Regions from separate parts of the Homo sapiens genome. Here all the other regions are linked to region 3. The links come from fine-mapping of genetic effects on gene expression. A gene starts in region 3. Each other region holds a variant in brackets. All regions are shown on one strand. Distances are between the middles of the regions. Region 1 has its middle 2.4 kb from the start of MIR5705. Region 2 overlaps AFF1 (ALF transcription elongation factor 1). Region 3 holds the start of HSD17B11 (hydroxysteroid 17-beta dehydrogenase 11). Region 4 overlaps HSD17B11 (hydroxysteroid 17-beta dehydrogenase 11).

Evidence for each region.
Region 1: its variant is fine-mapped to the expression of HSD17B11 in whole blood (TOPMed, PIP above 0.99). The same link has a PIP of 0.9 or more in breast, caudate, esophagus muscle, gastroesophageal junction, hippocampus and ovary.
Region 2: its variant is fine-mapped to the expression of HSD17B11 in whole blood (TOPMed, PIP 0.97).
Region 4: its variant is fine-mapped to the expression of HSD17B11 in whole blood (TOPMed, PIP above 0.99).

Annotation. Positions count from the first base shown.
Region 1 is chr4:87,296,093-87,300,359 of GRCh38, forward strand. No RefSeq gene overlaps it. Among named protein-coding and RNA genes, the nearest start is that of MIR5705, 2.4 kb to the right of the region's middle. The variant A/T (reference allele first, on the strand shown) is at 2,193.
Region 2 is chr4:86,992,849-86,996,848 of GRCh38, forward strand. The region is part of intron 2 of AFF1 (ALF transcription elongation factor 1); the gene reads left to right. Among named protein-coding and RNA genes, the nearest start is that of AFF1, 60 kb to the left of the region's middle. The variant C/T (reference allele first, on the strand shown) is at 2,418.
Region 3 is chr4:87,389,567-87,393,566 of GRCh38, forward strand. HSD17B11 (hydroxysteroid 17-beta dehydrogenase 11) reads right to left here and starts at 1,622. Exons shown (of 7, transcript NM_016245.5): 1 at 1,295-1,622. The coding sequence starts at 1,504. RefSeq lists enhancers at 1,834-1,903, 1,917-2,489.
Region 4 is chr4:87,363,360-87,367,626 of GRCh38, forward strand. The region is part of intron 4 of HSD17B11 (hydroxysteroid 17-beta dehydrogenase 11); the gene reads right to left. Among named protein-coding and RNA genes, the nearest start is that of HSD17B11, 26 kb to the right of the region's middle. The variant G/A (reference allele first, on the strand shown) is at 1,798.

The DNA.
Region 1 (4,267 bases), 93 kb before region 3:
GGAGAAGCAAGAGAGCTCTAAAAAAGAGACCGAGAAAATCAGCCAAAGAAGTCAGAGAAAAACTGGGAGGAACTGAAAAATACAACCTCCTCACATGAGAGGCCTTCTAGCTGATGATTAAGACCATGGATACTGTAGCTGAACTGACAACTCCACCATTTATTCCTTGGCTGTGTGGCCTTGGATGACAAGGTATTGACACTTTACAGTTGCTTATCTTTAAATTGTAGCCAGTTGAAATCCCTACCTCACAGGATTTTTTGTGATGATTAAATGAGTAAATGGATGTAAGGTTTGTAGGAAAGTGTATCAGAGAATAATAAGCCCTCTATATGTGTTTGCCAATGTTTGAAAGGATTAAATCCCTTTTATATCATATTGATTAATGGAGCATATAATTTCTATTCTCATTGGACCTTTAAAGATTCTTTTTATATCACCAGTTTCCGCCTAGCATCGCTCTGGAGATGTACAAGGGGCTTAGTAAAGGTTGATAGAAACAAACCAATTATGTAATCATAAATAATGCAATAGATGAATATAATACAATTATATGTAGCCATTAAGATTAAGAATAACTTAGGTGGTATGGTTCTTTTTAAAAATTTAAACATTGGCAGGGCCTGGTGGCTCAGGCCTGTAATCCCAGCACTTTGGACGGTCAATGGGAGGACGGCTTGAGCCCAGGAGTTAGAGACCAGCCTGGGCAACATGACAAGATCTCATCTCTACAAAAAAAATACAAAAAATTAGCTGGTCTTGGTGGTGTGCACCTGTGGTCCCAGCTACTCAAGAGGCTGAGGTGCAAGGACTGCTTGAGCCTAGGAGGTCGAGGTTGCTGTGAGCTGTGATGTAGCCACTGCACTCCAGCCTGGCAAAAGAGCAAGGCCCTATCTAAAATAAATAAATAAATAAATAAAATTTAAACGTTTAAAAATTATGGGCCAGGCATGGTGACTATGCCTGCAATCCCAGCACTTTGGGAGGCCAAGATGGGCAGATCCCCTGATGTCAGGAGTTTGAGACCTTGAGACCAGCCTGGCCAACATGGTGAAACCCTGTCTCTACTAAAAATACAAAAAAAATTAGCCAGGCATGGTGGCAGGCACCTGTAATCCCAGGTACTCGGGAGGCTGAGGCAAGAGAATCATTGAATCCCTGAGATAGAAGTTGCAGTGAGCCAAGATCGTGCCACTGAAATCCAGCTTGGGTGACAGAAAAGGATTGCGTCTTGAAAAAAAAAATTATGGTGAAATATACATAATATAAAGTTTACCATTTTAACTATTTTTAAGTGTAAAGTTCAGTAGTATCAACTACATTCATATTTTGCAGCCATCACCACCATCCATCTCTACAACTTTTTCAACTTCCTAAACTGACACTCTGTACCCATTAAATAATAACTCCCCATTCTCCATTCCCCTCAGCCCCTGAAACTACCATTCTACTTTCTGTCTCTGTGTATTTGATCACTCTAGATACCTCGTATGAGTGGGATCATACACTATTTATACTTTGTACTTTTGTGACTAGCTCATTTCACTTAGCATAAAGTCCTCAAGGTTCATCCATGTTGTAGCATGGTGTCAGAATTTTCCTCTTGTTTAAAGCTGGATAGTATTCTACTGTATGTATATGCCACATTTTGTTTATCCATTCATCCATTGATGGATATTTGGGTTACTTCCACTTTTTGGCTACTGTGAATAATGCTGCTATGAATGTGGGTGTACCAATATCTATTTGAGTTTTCTTTTCAATTCCTTTGGGTATATACCCGGAAGTGAAATTGCTGGATCATATGGTAATTCTGTTTACATGCAATGGTTATTTTAATATTGTATCTTGCCCCCCTTATATTTAGTTCAAAATCTGAGAACTCATCACTATGCTGTACTCTCTTATTGCCTCAAGACTTGTGCACTTTATAATTTTAGATACTCTTGTAAGCACTGGAAATCCTTTCTGAAATAAAGGTGGGTAGAAAGTAATCAATAAATACCAGCTATAATATGTTAACTTCACTTTTTCCATGGTCAATAATAGATAATCTATACATAACTATTAAATACATGGCTCAGATAAATGTACTTATAGCAATTTGAAATTTTGCATGGTTTTATATTGTGACTGTATATATGCCTGTATTGTGAAATTTAATAGCATACATATATTTATCTTTATTTATA[A/T]ATTGGTTATTTTATAACTTACTATTTTCTTCTGTGCTCTATCCTCCACTTCAGTGCTAGTTTTGTCTTTCTCAACCACAGATCTGATCTCGTTGGTTTTATGTACTCTACTCTTGCATGGCTTGCCTCAATAAAATCCAAATCTGTCAACATGTTTTTTGAAACTCTGTACTGTTGGGCCCCAAACATCTTTTCCAAGCTGTTATTCCCCCAGATTCCCAGGTGCATGATCCATGTTGACCCTGGATGACTTACCATGCTACAAACGCACAACTTGTAAAACATTTTGTACCAACATGCATGTTTGTTCCCTGTGGCATATTCTTGCACCTCCTCCTCTTTAATATCTTTAATTGCATCTCCTCAGCAAAGATTTGCCCTGTCACCCAAATTAATCATGCTGTCTATTCACAAAGCACTTGGTTAGTAACTTTTCAAAGGGACTAACCCTATTTTTCTTTGAGTGAGTTGTTATTTACAAACAGGCTGGATTAGCTGATCTGTTGTAAACATCTTTAAAGCAAGGATCACATCTTCCTCTCTGATTTTTCTACATTCTAGCATCATGTATTTCCTATCAAAGTTGCCGAGTGAATATCTTTTCTTGAATGAATTGTAGAAAAAGCCTTGTTTTGGCTTGAAAAAGTCTATGAGTTGTTGTAGTTTATCTTGAATATTTCTACATTAAATTCACCAGCATAGAAAATAATACTCTCAAATGTGCAATATTGTTAGATAACAAGGTACACTGGAACTGCAATATTGTTTGAAATATTTAAATCACATCATTCCAAATTGAATTCAACATCAAGTGGTCTTTTTTTTTTTCCTGCTACATAGGTAATACAGGATAGTTTTGATGACTGAAAAATAGGCTATGTTTCCAGACTAGATTAGAATGTGGGGAGAAGCTTAGAAAGAGAAGGCTGAAAAGAGAAAGAGAACAATGGAAGAGAAGTAGAGAACTAAATGCATCAAATTAATTGAACGAAGTCTGAACTAATTAGTAAAGAGCCATCAGAAGGAAAGAGGTGTTGAGAAACAGAAAGTCAAAAAATCCAGGGCTGGGTGCAGTGACTCACGCCCATAATCTCAGCACTTTGGGAGGCCGAGGCGGGCTGATCACTGGAGGCCAGGAGTTCGAGACCAGTCTGGCCAACATAGTGAAACCCTGTCTCTACTAAAAGTACAAAAATTAGCTGGATGTAGTGGTGCATGCCTATAAACCCAGGTACTCAGGAGGCTGAGGCTGGAGAATCCCTTGAACCCGGGAAATGGAGGCTGCAGTGAGCCAAGATCACACCACTGCACTCCAGCCTGGGTGACAAAGTGAGACTCTGTCTCAAAAAGAAAAAAAAAAAAGTGAAAAATCCTAGTTATTGGAATTAGGTATGGGAACAGGCAATTTGGTTTTCAGTGTTGTTTGGGAATATTTAAGTCTTAATTTATACAAGTTAGCCTCACATTTAAAAGTAAGAAGATCTCTATTGAGATAATGGATCATTACTGGAGTGCAATTGGTAAATGACTTCACTTTTCATAAGTGTTTTGATGTGAATTTATGAATATTCTCTAGCTGCTCACTGGGTTTGTGAAGTTAGTTTGAATGAGACATGATTGCACCCTAGGCAAGTCAGAATGTACTTGCTTTGATTTCACTGTGATTACTTTTACTATAAAAGATTCCCATTAAATACAAGTAAGTTCCCACTTAACTTTCCTGTAATTCCACCCTTGCTGCAAGCAGCTGACAGGCAAATTTGATCAGATGTAATACATCCAATCAGATAAAGAAGGGGTTTCAGCAAAACACTTGGCAGATTTGAAGAGCTGAATAGAAAAGGTCATGAGCTGTCTGAAAACTTTTAGACACAAGAGGAAGCAAATAGTAGAAAGCGTGAGAGCACTCTTAGGACAGGGATTGGCATTTCCCCCTTACGGTTTCTCACGTAATTTGTGAAGACATAAACACAAGGGTAACTGTTAAATTCGTTGTAATTATCACATGTACAGAACAGCCCAGTTCACATAATGCTGCACTAAATTCAAAGTTAGTGTTATAAAAAAAGATGCCT
Region 2 (4,000 bases), 400 kb before region 3:
TGGTTATTAATCAGCTTTTTGTTCTCTAGATTAATTGTAATTTCAAGACATGTAGGATTTAGAAAATGGAGTAGCCCTTTCTTTGAGTGAGTAAGTTCTTAGAAGACAAAGATTTTTTAAAAAACATGCTTTCCTATAGGGTTGCATGAGCTTTAGACGTAATAAATGCTCAATAAATGTTGATTTGATTTAGTTTTAATCTTCCTGTTTTACATGTGACCTAGGTAGGAAACAGAGTCCACAGCCAAGAAGCCTCAAATAAAACTCCCCTAACTTTTTGGAAGGCAGCCTCAGTCCTCAGATGGAAGGTAAAATCCATACCTCCAATTAGGTTTTGCTTGGATTCAAACATTTGCTAGGAATAAAAACAGCACATTTACGACAGGCTAGGTATCACAGAAAGTGCCAGTAGTTGATGTAACCTCTTTTATGTGTGAGGAGACCAGATCTTAGTATAACTAATAAGCTGCAATTTACTGATCATTGTGGCTTGCCTATATATGTAGTTTTTTTCTCCCACAAATGAGGAAAACATCCCTGCAGAGATTGAGGAATATCTCCTATCTTCCAGTTCTTAAATCCTTCCCCTTTCCTGATATGTGTTCAGGAAAATTTAGGGATAGTTTCAAGGGCAGGAAAAGCCCATAACTCATAGATGACTATGCCACAATACTGTTCAGAGACTGTTTCAAACTGAATAATGGTAGTAATTGTGGACACTTGTCTTTGAGAGTTTATGGAACTCCTAAATGTCATAGATTTTATAGTACTGTGCTTCTCAGAGTTCAATGAGTATATGAATCACCTTTGAATTTTGTTAAAATGCAGATTCTGGGCTGGGCATGGTGGCTCATGCCTGTAATCCCAGCATTTTGGGAGGCTGAGGTGGGTGGATTATGAGGTCAGGAGTTCGAGACCAGCCTGGCCAACATAGTGAAACCCCATCTCTACTAAAAATACAAAAAATTAGCTGGGCATGGTAATGTGTGCCTGTAATTCCAGCTACTCGGGAGGCTAAGGCAGGAGAATCATGTGAACCCAGGAGGTGGAGGTTTGCAGTGAGCTGAGATCGTGCCATTTCACTCCAGCCTGGGAGACAGAGCGAGACTCCGTCTTAAAAAATAATAATACATTAAAAATATAAAAATGCAGATTCTGATTCAGGAAATCTGGGATGGGACCTAAAACTGCATTTCTTATAGGCCTCTCATGTTAGAGCTGCTGCTCTGCAGCCTTACTTTAAGTAACAAGGCACTAAAACACAGGTTCTAACTCAACTGCACACTAAATTGCCAGAAGGCACTAAAAAAGAGTCCCCCTACTAAATAAACTATATTTAAACAAACATTTGTTTTCTTACTTGAATTAATCAAAACACACGAAGTTGCTAATTCGACTTCCTGATCACTGTGGGCTCACTGGTGCTGGCACACTGAGTTGGCATAAGCTCCAGGAAGGCCCAGAGCGGAGTCCTTCACACACTTCTCATGGTCAAATATGTGGTTTCCTTTGGATTTTTTGAAATGTTGGAAATTGTTCATTGATCCTCACTTGCTCCATTTGTGGATCTGGATCAGAGTCCACTGATTGTGTAATGAGAGAACCCCAGATTATGCAATCTGGGGGCAGATCTCACCTGCAAACACATGTGTAAAAGGAAATCTTAGCAGCTGCAACTGTAGCAGAGTTCTTCACAGTTCTCTGCTTCAGAAATTATCTTTTGGCTGCATTGGTTTTGGCTGCCTTTCTGCTCAAACAAGCAAACACTCCCCTTGATCCATCCAGCATCATGACTTGATATGCATGAGAACTAGGAGCTTGTGTTAGGTAGAGTGAAGGATAAGCTATCAGAGAAGGCTTCTGAGAAGAGCTGCATTTGTTAGAGTTTAGATAATGGTAAGGGGTCTTCAGCTGGAGCAGAGGGAAAGGGGCATTCTAATGAAGAGAAAATACTGTCTGCAAAGGTTGGTGGCATTAGAGAACTGTGGGGCTGGAGGGTGTTCATGGGAAAGCGGGGAGGGGACAGAGAGAGGTTTGGTGGATGATAAGGCTACTGAAGTTGGTCCAAATTGGGAAGGGTGTTAGATATCCTGTAAGAAACTGTCTCCAGGCCAGGCATGGTGGCTCACACTTTGTAATCTCAGCACTTCGGGAGGCCAAGGCAGGTGGATCACCTGAGTCCAGGAGTTTGAGATCAGCCTAGGCAACATGGTAAAACCTAGTCTTTACAAAAAATTAGCCAGGTGTGGTGTTGTGTGCCTGTAGCCCCAGCTACTCAGGAGGCTGAGGTAGGAGGATTGCTTGAGCCCTGGAGACCGAGGCTGCAGTCAACTGAAATTGCAGCACTGCACTTCAGCCTGGGCAACAGAATGAGACCTTTTCTCAAAAAACAAACAGGCAGTTAGAAAAATCTACCC[C/T]CTTCCCCCTCCCCCTCTCCCTCCCCCTCTCCCTCCCTCCCCCTCTCCCCACGGTCTCCCTCTCCCTCTCTTTCCACGGTCTCCCTCTGATGCCGAGCCGAAGCTGGACGGTACTGCTGCCATCTCGGCTCACTGCAACCTCCCTGCCTGATTCTCCTGCCTCAGCCTGCCGAGTGCCTGCGATTGCAGGCGCGCGCCGCCACGCCTGACTGGTTTTCGTATTTTTTTGGTGGAGACGGGGTTTCGCTGTGTTGGCCGGGCTGGTCTCCAGCTCCTAACCTCGAGTGATCCGCCAGCCTCGGCCTCCCGAGGTGCCGGGATTGCAGACGGAGTCTCCTTCACTCAGTGCTCAATGGTGCCCAGGCTGGAGTGCAGTGGTGTGATCTCGGCTCGCTACAACCTCCACCTCCCAGCAGCCTGCCTTGGCCTCCCAAAGTGCCGAGATTGCAGCCTCTGCCCGGCCGCCACCCCGTCTGGGAAGTGAGGAGCGTCTCTGCCAGGCCGCCCATCGTCTGGGATGTGAGGAGCCCTTCTGCCTGGCTGCCCAGTCTGGAAAGTGAGGAGCGTCTCTGCCTGGCCGCCATCCCATCTGGGAAGTGAGGAGCGTCTCTGCCCGGCCGCCCATCGTCTGAGATGTGGGGAGCACCTCTGCCCTGCCGCCCCGTCCGGGATGTGAGGAGCGTCTCTGCCCGGCCGCCCCGTCTGAGAAGTGAGGAGCCCCTCCGCCCGGCAGCCGCCCCGTCTGAGAAGTGAGGAGCCCCTCCGCCCAGCAGCCACCCCGTCTGGGAAGTGAGGAGCGTCTCTGCCCGGCAGCCACCTCGTCTGGGAGGGAGGTGGGGGGGTCAGGCCCCCGCCCGGCCAGCCGCCCTGTCCGGGAGGTGAGGGGCACCTCTGCCCGGCCGCCCCTACTGGGAAGTGAGGAGCCCCTCTGCCTGGCCACCACCCCGTCTGGGAGGTGTACCCAACAGCTCATTGAGAACGGGCCATGATGACAATGGCGGTTTTGTGGAATAGAAAGGGGGGAAAGGTGGGGAAAAGATTGAGAAATCGGATGGTTGCTGTGTCTGTGTAGAAAGAGGTAGACATGGGAGACTTTTCATTTTGTTCTGTACTAAGAAAAATTCTTCTGCCTTGGGATCCTGTTGATCTGTGACCTTACCCCCAACCCTGTGCTCTCTGAAACATGTGCTGTATCCACTCAGGGTTGAATGGATTAAGGGCGGTGCAAGATGTGCTTTGTTAAACAGATGCTTGAAGGCAGCATGCTCGTTAAGAGTCATCACCACTCCCTAATCTCAAGTACCCAGGGACACAAACACTGCGGAAGGCCGCAGGGTCCTCTGCCTAGGAAAACCAGAGACCTTTGTTCACTTGTTTATCTGCTGACCTTCCCTCCACTATTGTCCTGTGACCCTGCCAAATCCCCCTCTGTGAGAAACACCCAAGAATGATCAATTAAAACAAACAAACAAACAAAAAAACCCACAAATATTTATGTTGAAACTTAAACCCGATGTGGCAGTATTAAAAGGTGGAGCCTTTAAGAGGTGATTGGATCGTGAAGGATCTGCCCTCATGAATGA
Region 3 (4,000 bases):
GGTCATGGAACCTTATTTTCTGTTTGTCACCCTATCCCTAATGTCTAAGCAGCAGACAGTCATTATTTGTTGATTGCTGTCTTCATCAGCCACTCACTGGGTTAACCCTCATTTAACTTCACATCCTTTGAATTATTGTTTACAGCATTGCATGTCAACTAGTGTGTAATGGATAATGTTTCAGGCCATCAGGTATCTTCTAGAAACCCCTTTGTTCATCTACCAAAGGTCAAATAAAAGGTTGGATTCTAGGTCCTCTTCTCCTCCCTAAGCCACACCTACACTTGTCCTAGGTAAAAAATTACACTGAAAGTTTTTTTCCCTTTTATTGTTTTTACTAAAAGATGCTTTCCCGCCACTCCTTCAGTATCACAGGTCAAACGTGGTAAAAAATGTTTTTTAAAAAAATTTGAGACAGGGTCTCACTCTGTCACCCAGGCTGGAGTGCAGTGGGGCGTTTACAGCTCACTGCAGTCTCCACCTCCCAGGCTCAAGCAACCCCCCACCTCAGCCTCCCGGAAAAGATGCTTTTTAAAATTACTCTTGGCAATAACTATGGCAATGTAGCATTGGTTTCTGTTGAGTATAATCTTTTTGTTTGTTTTTTGAGACGGAGTCTAGCTCTGTCGCCCAGGCTGAAGTGCAGTGGCGCCATCTTGGCTCACTGCAACCTCCGCCCCGCGGGGTTCCCGCCATTCTCCTGCCTCAGCCTCCCCAATAGCTGGGACTACAGACGCCCGCCACCACGCCCGGCTAATTTTTTTTTGGTATTTTTAGTAGAGACGGGGTTTCAGTGTGTTAGGATGGTCTCGATCTCCTGACCTCGCGATCCGCCTGCCTTGGACTCCCAAAGTGCTGGGATTACAGGCGTGAGCCAACGGCGAGTATAATCTTTCAAACCACTTTTCTCATTAACAGTAAGTAGGACTTTCTCTTAATAGGTACAAGCTTCTTACTCTTTTAATATATAGCTAAAACGATTGTTTTTTCCCTATTTTTAAAATAGAGGGATCAATGAAATCAGGTTCAGGAAAAAATTATGAGTTATCCTTAGGGCAAAAATGGGGATCAATTTACAAATGGGGCAGTAACTGGGACTATTATAACCTCTAGGTCTGTTTATCATGTGATCATACAACATATTAATTCATGCCCTCCCATCTGCAAAATGGCAATACTAATTTTTTTTTCCTCCCTGCTTTGCAGAGATGAGGTAAAGGGTGGTTGCCAGCAAAATGCAGACACATCCACAAATTAAAGGTACCAGAAAGTAAAACATAGTAAACACTGTTACCTTATTTATATCCCAGAGAACCAGCTTGCTTTTAAGTTTAGCAAATTCATAGGCAGTCAGTCTCCCAATTCCATGCCCAGCTCCTGTAATCAGCACGATTTCGCCGGTGACTGATTTTCTCCTCTTAGGAATAAAAAGCTTCACGAAGGACTCTAGGGAGCAGACGATCAGTAACGGGAGAAGCAGGAGGATGTCCAGAAGAAATTTCATCCCTTTTGTGGCTGCGAGCGTTTGGTGTGTTTTTTTTTTTTTTTACCACTCTAAACTGCTTTTAGAGGGTAGCTCGATCTAACACCAGAAAGAGTAGGGGCGAGAGCAAGGAGGAACTCCCGTATCAAAGAAAAACAACTCCGAAACCGTTCCTTCCGCTGGGCTGGGCTTTGTTGGTCTTTCGCAATTGGCTCGGGCTGCAGTGCTTGCTAGCTCAGAGATCTGGGAGGGACGAAGTCCAGACCGGAGCAAAGCTTCCTAGTTCTGCTTTGCGCAGCCCCCACGCGGTGTGTGGCCGCGATTGTCTTTTACACCACTTTCTCCCGGTGTCGTGAGCCGGCCTTGGAGGGTTAGTTGCTCACTTGTTTTCCTAAATTGGATAAGTTCCAAGGATAACCGACAGTGTCCACAGGCCAGATGCTTCTTTCATAGTTGAAGGTTGCTTATCACTAGATAGGGGGTGCCGCTGGGCGCGGCGGCTCTCGCCTGTGATCCTGGCACTTTGAGAAGCCCTGGCGGGAGGATCGCTTGACCCCAGGAGTTCGAGATCAGCCTGAACAACATAGGGAGACCCCCGGTCTCTTTTTTTTTTTTTTTAATTAGCCAGGCGTAGTGGCGTGTGCCTGTAGTTCCAGCTACTCGAGAGACTGAGGCACGGGAATTGCTTGAGTCCAGGAGGTGGAGGCTACAGTGAGTGAAGATCGCGCCACTGCACTCCAGCCTGGACGAAAAGGCCAGACTTTGTCCTAAAAAACAAAAACTAGATAGAGGATGCAAATGTAGATTCCTATCTTAAAGGATCCTGAAAAGACCAATCGTTCTGCTTCCAGCTGAGAAATTGCGCTACATCACATTTTAGTTTGAACTAAGCACGATTTCTGGAAGACAGGGGAAATTTTGTCTGTTCAAGGACAGCTTCAATCAAGCGCCAGAAAAAATTGTTATCGTATTAAAGGGATTGTTTCCACAAGAAAGAAGAGTATATTTGAATAATCATTTTTCACTTGACCTATTAGAGTTTGAAAATAAAAAATATATGTTGTACTTTAGGAATTTTATCTTTATTCAAGTGAATAAATAGCAAATCATTTAGCCTAAAGATTACCTATGTAACATTTGGTTTTGTAGCCTATATAAATGGGTATTCAGTATATGCTAACTAGTGACTTGAAAAAATTCTAGAGATTGGTTACTGGAAGAAAAGACCTAACTAGGGCTTGTGTCCAGTAAGAGCTTAATAATGGTATTGCATGCATTTTTTTCCAACTCATTTTTGACAGACATTGGATTTGGGTTTTGCGCAAGACACTCCAGTGCTTGGGAAGGGACTTTGTTGTGTGACAATAGTCAACTTTCATATTTAAGAGCCAGAAAGATCACACAAAAAAATCAAAGTTCACAAATAGTTCAAACTCGATTGTCCCTCTTACTTAAGCAGCCATACGTTGTTATAGGGGATGAAGGGATAGTGGCAGCCTCACAAAAGTGAACCCCATTATAGAATTCTTTGAATTCAGAATATCTACAACTTTTTTTTGGATAGCCTCCAAATCCAAATTTACAAAACACTTGTATAGAAAGTTTACAAAGTGTTCTTCCACATATATTATTTCATTTGATTTTCAAAAGCCTCCTAGGAAATAGAGAAAAGTAGAGTCAGGATATATTTATACCTATACTGTAAATGAATAAATCTGTTAGATCAACTTTAAAATCTACACAGTGAGTAAAAGTGTAACTGGGGCTACACATATGTTCAGTGTTTGTCAATTTTTTGGTCCAACACCTACAGGAATAAATTACATCTGACATGGTGATCTACTATAAGAAGTGTTTCAACTATGTTGAGTTTCATATATTGAGGCTCTAGCTATGCTATTTTTTTTTTTTTTAAAGGAGTCTCCCTCTGTCTCCAGGCTGGAGTGCAGTGGCGAAATCTTGGCTCACAGCAACCTCAACCTCCACCTCCCAGGTTCAAGCGATTCTCCTGCCTCAGCCTCCCAAGTAGCTGGGACTACAGGCACGCACCACCACACCCAGCTAATTTTTGTATTTTTAGTAGACAGGGTTTCCCCATGTTGGCTAGGATGGTCTCAATCTCGATCTCCTGTTCCACCCACCTTGGTCTTCCCAAGTGCTGGGATTACAGGCGTGAGCCATGGCACACGGTCTGGCTATGCTATTTCTTATTCCATTCTATTAATTAAAAAAAACTGGGTAGTTTTAACCTACAGTTGATCAAGGTTTCATTGGTTAAGGGAAAGAACACAGCATTTGGACGCAGTCGTACCTGAATCCCTTATGTGTATGTGACTTCATCTCTCTAAACATGTTTCTAAATTTGTAAAATTGAAATAATACTTACCCTACAGGATTCTTGTGACGTTCAAACGAGTTAATAGAAAGCACATTGCTTTATCAACTATTCAACTTTATGTAAATTATAATTAACACCAATAGAATGTGAGTGATGTGAATGGTCTTGTGAATGATGGT
Region 4 (4,267 bases), 26 kb before region 3:
TTCTAAGGCTAGTCTTAAGCTGGTGTATTTTGTGCTATGAATTCGTTTTTCCGTGTAGAGGGGTACTTCAGGATAAAACATGGGCTTAGAACACCTGTAAGCCCGCTTTTCAAGACTACCCAGCAAGCTGGTCAGTAACAAACTTGGTTGCAGGTCCCTGAAACAAACAAAAAACCCGATGAAGTCTCCACCTTGTTTTATGTGCTTGGGAGCTTGACCTTTTAACCGCATGGCAGTACCTTCTCTTGGGCTCTGTCTTCCAGGGAACAAGAATTTTAAAGTTCATGTCATAGCCAGCTCTGAAAATCATATTAAATAGTTAAAAGCCTTTGCAAGCTCAAAATTAACTAATCTAGACTACTTCTGAGAAAAGAAATAGACACTGCCCAGACCTGTAGCTCAGTAGCTAAGGTTTTGCACTTTCACAGTGGCAGTCTAGGTTCAATTCCCCACCCAGGAAATAAGTCATTACTGATTTAATATATGTGTCTATTCTCTTCTCCTCCATGGACTGTCTTCAATTTTCCTTCTTCTAAGCACCTAGGAGTTTACCTTTGGTAAAGTTCAGAAGCTGGAAATATTGGCCGCTTGGCATGGCTAAAGTCGGGTAATAAGAGCTCTGAAAGGATTTCTTCTTTAAAGAGCACTATGGTGAAAAGTCAGCTTAATTAAAAGTGGAATAAGCTATAAATATATTTAAAAGGCCTTTATGTTTTTCTCTTCTTGAAGCTTGTTTTGCTGGAAAAAGGTTTTTTCTTCTCAGTCAAGTGAATTATTTTTGTTTTTTTGTTTTGTTTTGTTTTGTTTTGTCTTGTTACTATTAATGCTCACATGAAAGGCCCGTAGATAACTTCTGGTAGCTTGGGACTACTTGGGAAAAACAAAGGCAGCACCACAGATCCAGTTTTGGGAAAAAAAAAAAAAAAAGAAAAAAAACCCCTCTGTTTTCCTCATGAGACCCCAAGAATTAAAAGCAGATAGATTCCTCTCAAAATCAAAGGCTCTGTTCTGTTTTGCATTGTGTTATCTGACGGTTTTGAGTTTGGGGGAGGGGGGTTATCAGCAATTACTTTGCATTATGAGAGAGCTTTGGTGTGTAACAACTAGGTAGGAAATGTACTTTAAGGGGTGGCTAATAGTAGTTATGGAGGGATACTTGACTCTGCACACTTGGATCAGAGAAGCATGCTCTAGGCCACCTGGAAGATAAGGCAACATCCTCACCCCTCACTGGGAGATGAGACTCTCATGAGGATGGGCTGATTACAAAATGGGCTGATTGGCTTTAGGTTGCCTTGCAATGAAATGCACAGTCGGTAAAAGCACTGCATTGTCTTCTCCCGTAGTATTTCCCTCCTTTTGGGGATCCAGGATCCAGTATAAAATACCACCTTTAATTTTGGAGATCTGTCTGCCTTCAGCTGCTTATTTGCTACTTATTTAGCCCTAGAAATGCATGCTGTCCCAGCTCTGTTCCTCCAAGGGCTCCACTCTGAAACCTGTCATCCAATTAAGAAACTGGCAAATGGTGGGGCGAGGTGGCTCATGCCTGTAATCCCAGCACTTTGGGAGGCTGAGGTGGGCGGATCACTTGAGGTCAGGAGTTCAAGACCAGCCTGGCCAACATGGGGAAAACCCGTCTCTAGTAAAAATACAAAAATTAGCTGGGTGTGGTGGTGGGCGCCTGTAATCCCAGCTACGCGGGAGGCTGAGGCATGAGAATCACTTGAACCTGGGAGGCAGAGGTTGCAGTGAGCCAAGATCATGCCACTGCACTCCAGCCTGGGTGACAAGAGC[G/A]AAACTTTGTCTCAAAAAAAAAGAAACTGGCAAACGAAAAACTGTATAAGTGCTGAATCTTCTATTTATAGTGTATGTTTATATATTACAAAGCTCTAATCAATTGACTTAGAAAAGTAAGTGCGTAAATATTTTTTCAGAAAAATAGAAACTAATGCCTTTTTGTTCGTGTGACTTTAGTAATCTTTTGAAAATAAAGACAGTTTTAAAGTTTATTGGTAAAATAAAATGTCTTAAAAATGTAGACATTTGGTCTAAATTAAGGTCAGATATCAGATTTGCTAAATGCTTTAAGGACAAACTGTTTCTTTAACTTTTGAAAACTGTTCTATTTACCTACTTTAAAGCCATCAGATTCTAGATAAGGCCTCATGCCCCTGGCTATGCTGGAGAGTCAGCCCTTATCTGCACTTCTGCCTGGTGTGTCCTAGACTAGTCTCCACACCTAGTACATAATTAAAATCCCTTACTTAACCAACGTTTTCATCAAAAATAAAAGTTGCTAGAAGTTAGCATTGTAATGTGTAATTAAGACTACTGAAGAAACAGTTTTACATGCAAGGTGTATAAAAAAGGTGAAATGTGTTTTTGGTTAAAAAAAAAATTGTAAGAAGAAGCATGGGAATGCGGATTATTTTCTGCCTAGATTAAAGTGTTAAAGGATTGTGTTAAGTGAAAAAAAAAAAAAGATTTAAAGAAGTTGTGGAAGGTTTTTTTTAGATGGAGTTTTGTTCTTGTTGCCCAGGCTGGAGTGCAATGGCGTGATCTTGACTCACCGCAACCTCTGCTTCCCGGGTTCAAGCAATTCTTCTGTCTCAGCCTCCCAGGTAGCTGGGATTACAGGCATGTGCCACCATGCCTGGCTAATTTTGTATTTTTAGTAGAGACAGGGTTTCTCCATGTTGATCAGGCTGGTCTTGAACTTCCGACCTCAGGTGATCCACCCATCTTGGCCTCCCAAAGTGTTGGGATATACAGGTGTGAGCCACTGCACCTGGCCTTTGTGGAAGGTTTATAAAAATTAATTGTAAGAGATTCTGTGTATGAACATATTAGCTAAAGTTAAAGGGGTATTATTCAGTTTTTCCATAAATTAAACATTGGAATAAAAGCACAACAGGTTTCTCTTAGAGGACTTATCTGCGCTTTCACAAAAAAATGTAAAGGGTTATAAAGGTTTATAAAATCTTACCTTAGGATTAAACATTAAAATTGGGTAAATATGTCTCTAAGGTTTTATTAAAAATTGGGTTTAACATTAATAATACATTAATGTAAAGGTGAAATTTCGCTTATTTGGTATAAAAATCATCCAGGAAGCATTCTCAAATGTGAAACAGTGTTTTGCTTTCTTTGGACTATATTTGTATAAATATGTTATTGGTATATGTTCCAAAGTTATAAGAAACTCCTTTATTTCTAATATGACTTAGTGTATGTTACTAATAATTATAATTGTTATGTAAAATTTTGTATGCCACAAAAGTAACCAAATTTCCTTATCAATTGTGGCTTTAATAGTGGCTGTCCTAAAGTTTTTATCATCCACAGACAGTTGTTGTCTTGTTTTAATCTTCTTTAAAAGGTGGTTTATAATCAACTATAGAATTCTAGCAGATGTTCTTAAATGCAGGTTGCTAATAACTTTAGAAATTGTAACATTAAAATAAAGAAAACAACTTTCGAAACTCTCATAAAAAGCTGGAATGTTCATGAATAACAAGTAGAACAGGAGTTAACTGAATTAACTGAACCAATAGAAAACTGAAGTAATTTTTTTTAACTTTGCTTAAAATATTGCTGATCTTTTATTTTTCAAAGGAAACTTCTTTTAAGCTATTTACAGCTTGCAGCAATTAAGTAAAATATACTCCTATGAACAAAATTTGAAACATATTTGTTTCTCTCTACCTGATTTCTCCGGAATGGAAACCAATTGTAAGTATTCTTAACTTATGGCAATATAGTTGTTTGTATAAGTGCAACAAAAATCTGTTTTCTTTTGTAATGGGACACTATTGGAGAAATTGGTTATTTTACCAAGGCTTTGACTGGAATGGTGTGCTTTCCTTTAAAGAATCAAACTTGACTTGTAAAGCCAATAAAAGCCCTATGGGAAACTGGCCTCATACTTTGCCTACACAGTCCCTGTACAGGGTTTCTGACCTATGGTAAGTAAAGAATGTCACTTTCTTACAGGTCCAGGAGGCCCAAGTTAACTTGGGACCTCAAAAGAAAAGTGTTTTACCCAACTCATAGGTATTTAAGGGTACAAACCCATGGCAGGGCTTAGCTTTAAAAAAGTCTTACCTGAGATTCCTTATAAAACAGAGTTCCATCAAAGCCAATTAAAAAGCCTGTGTGAAAAATAATTATTCTCGCTGCACTTTATACAAATAATCAGACCAAGTATAATAAAGCAAATCAGTCTTACCATAATGTGTCTTTAATAAAAATGGGAAACTGGAGA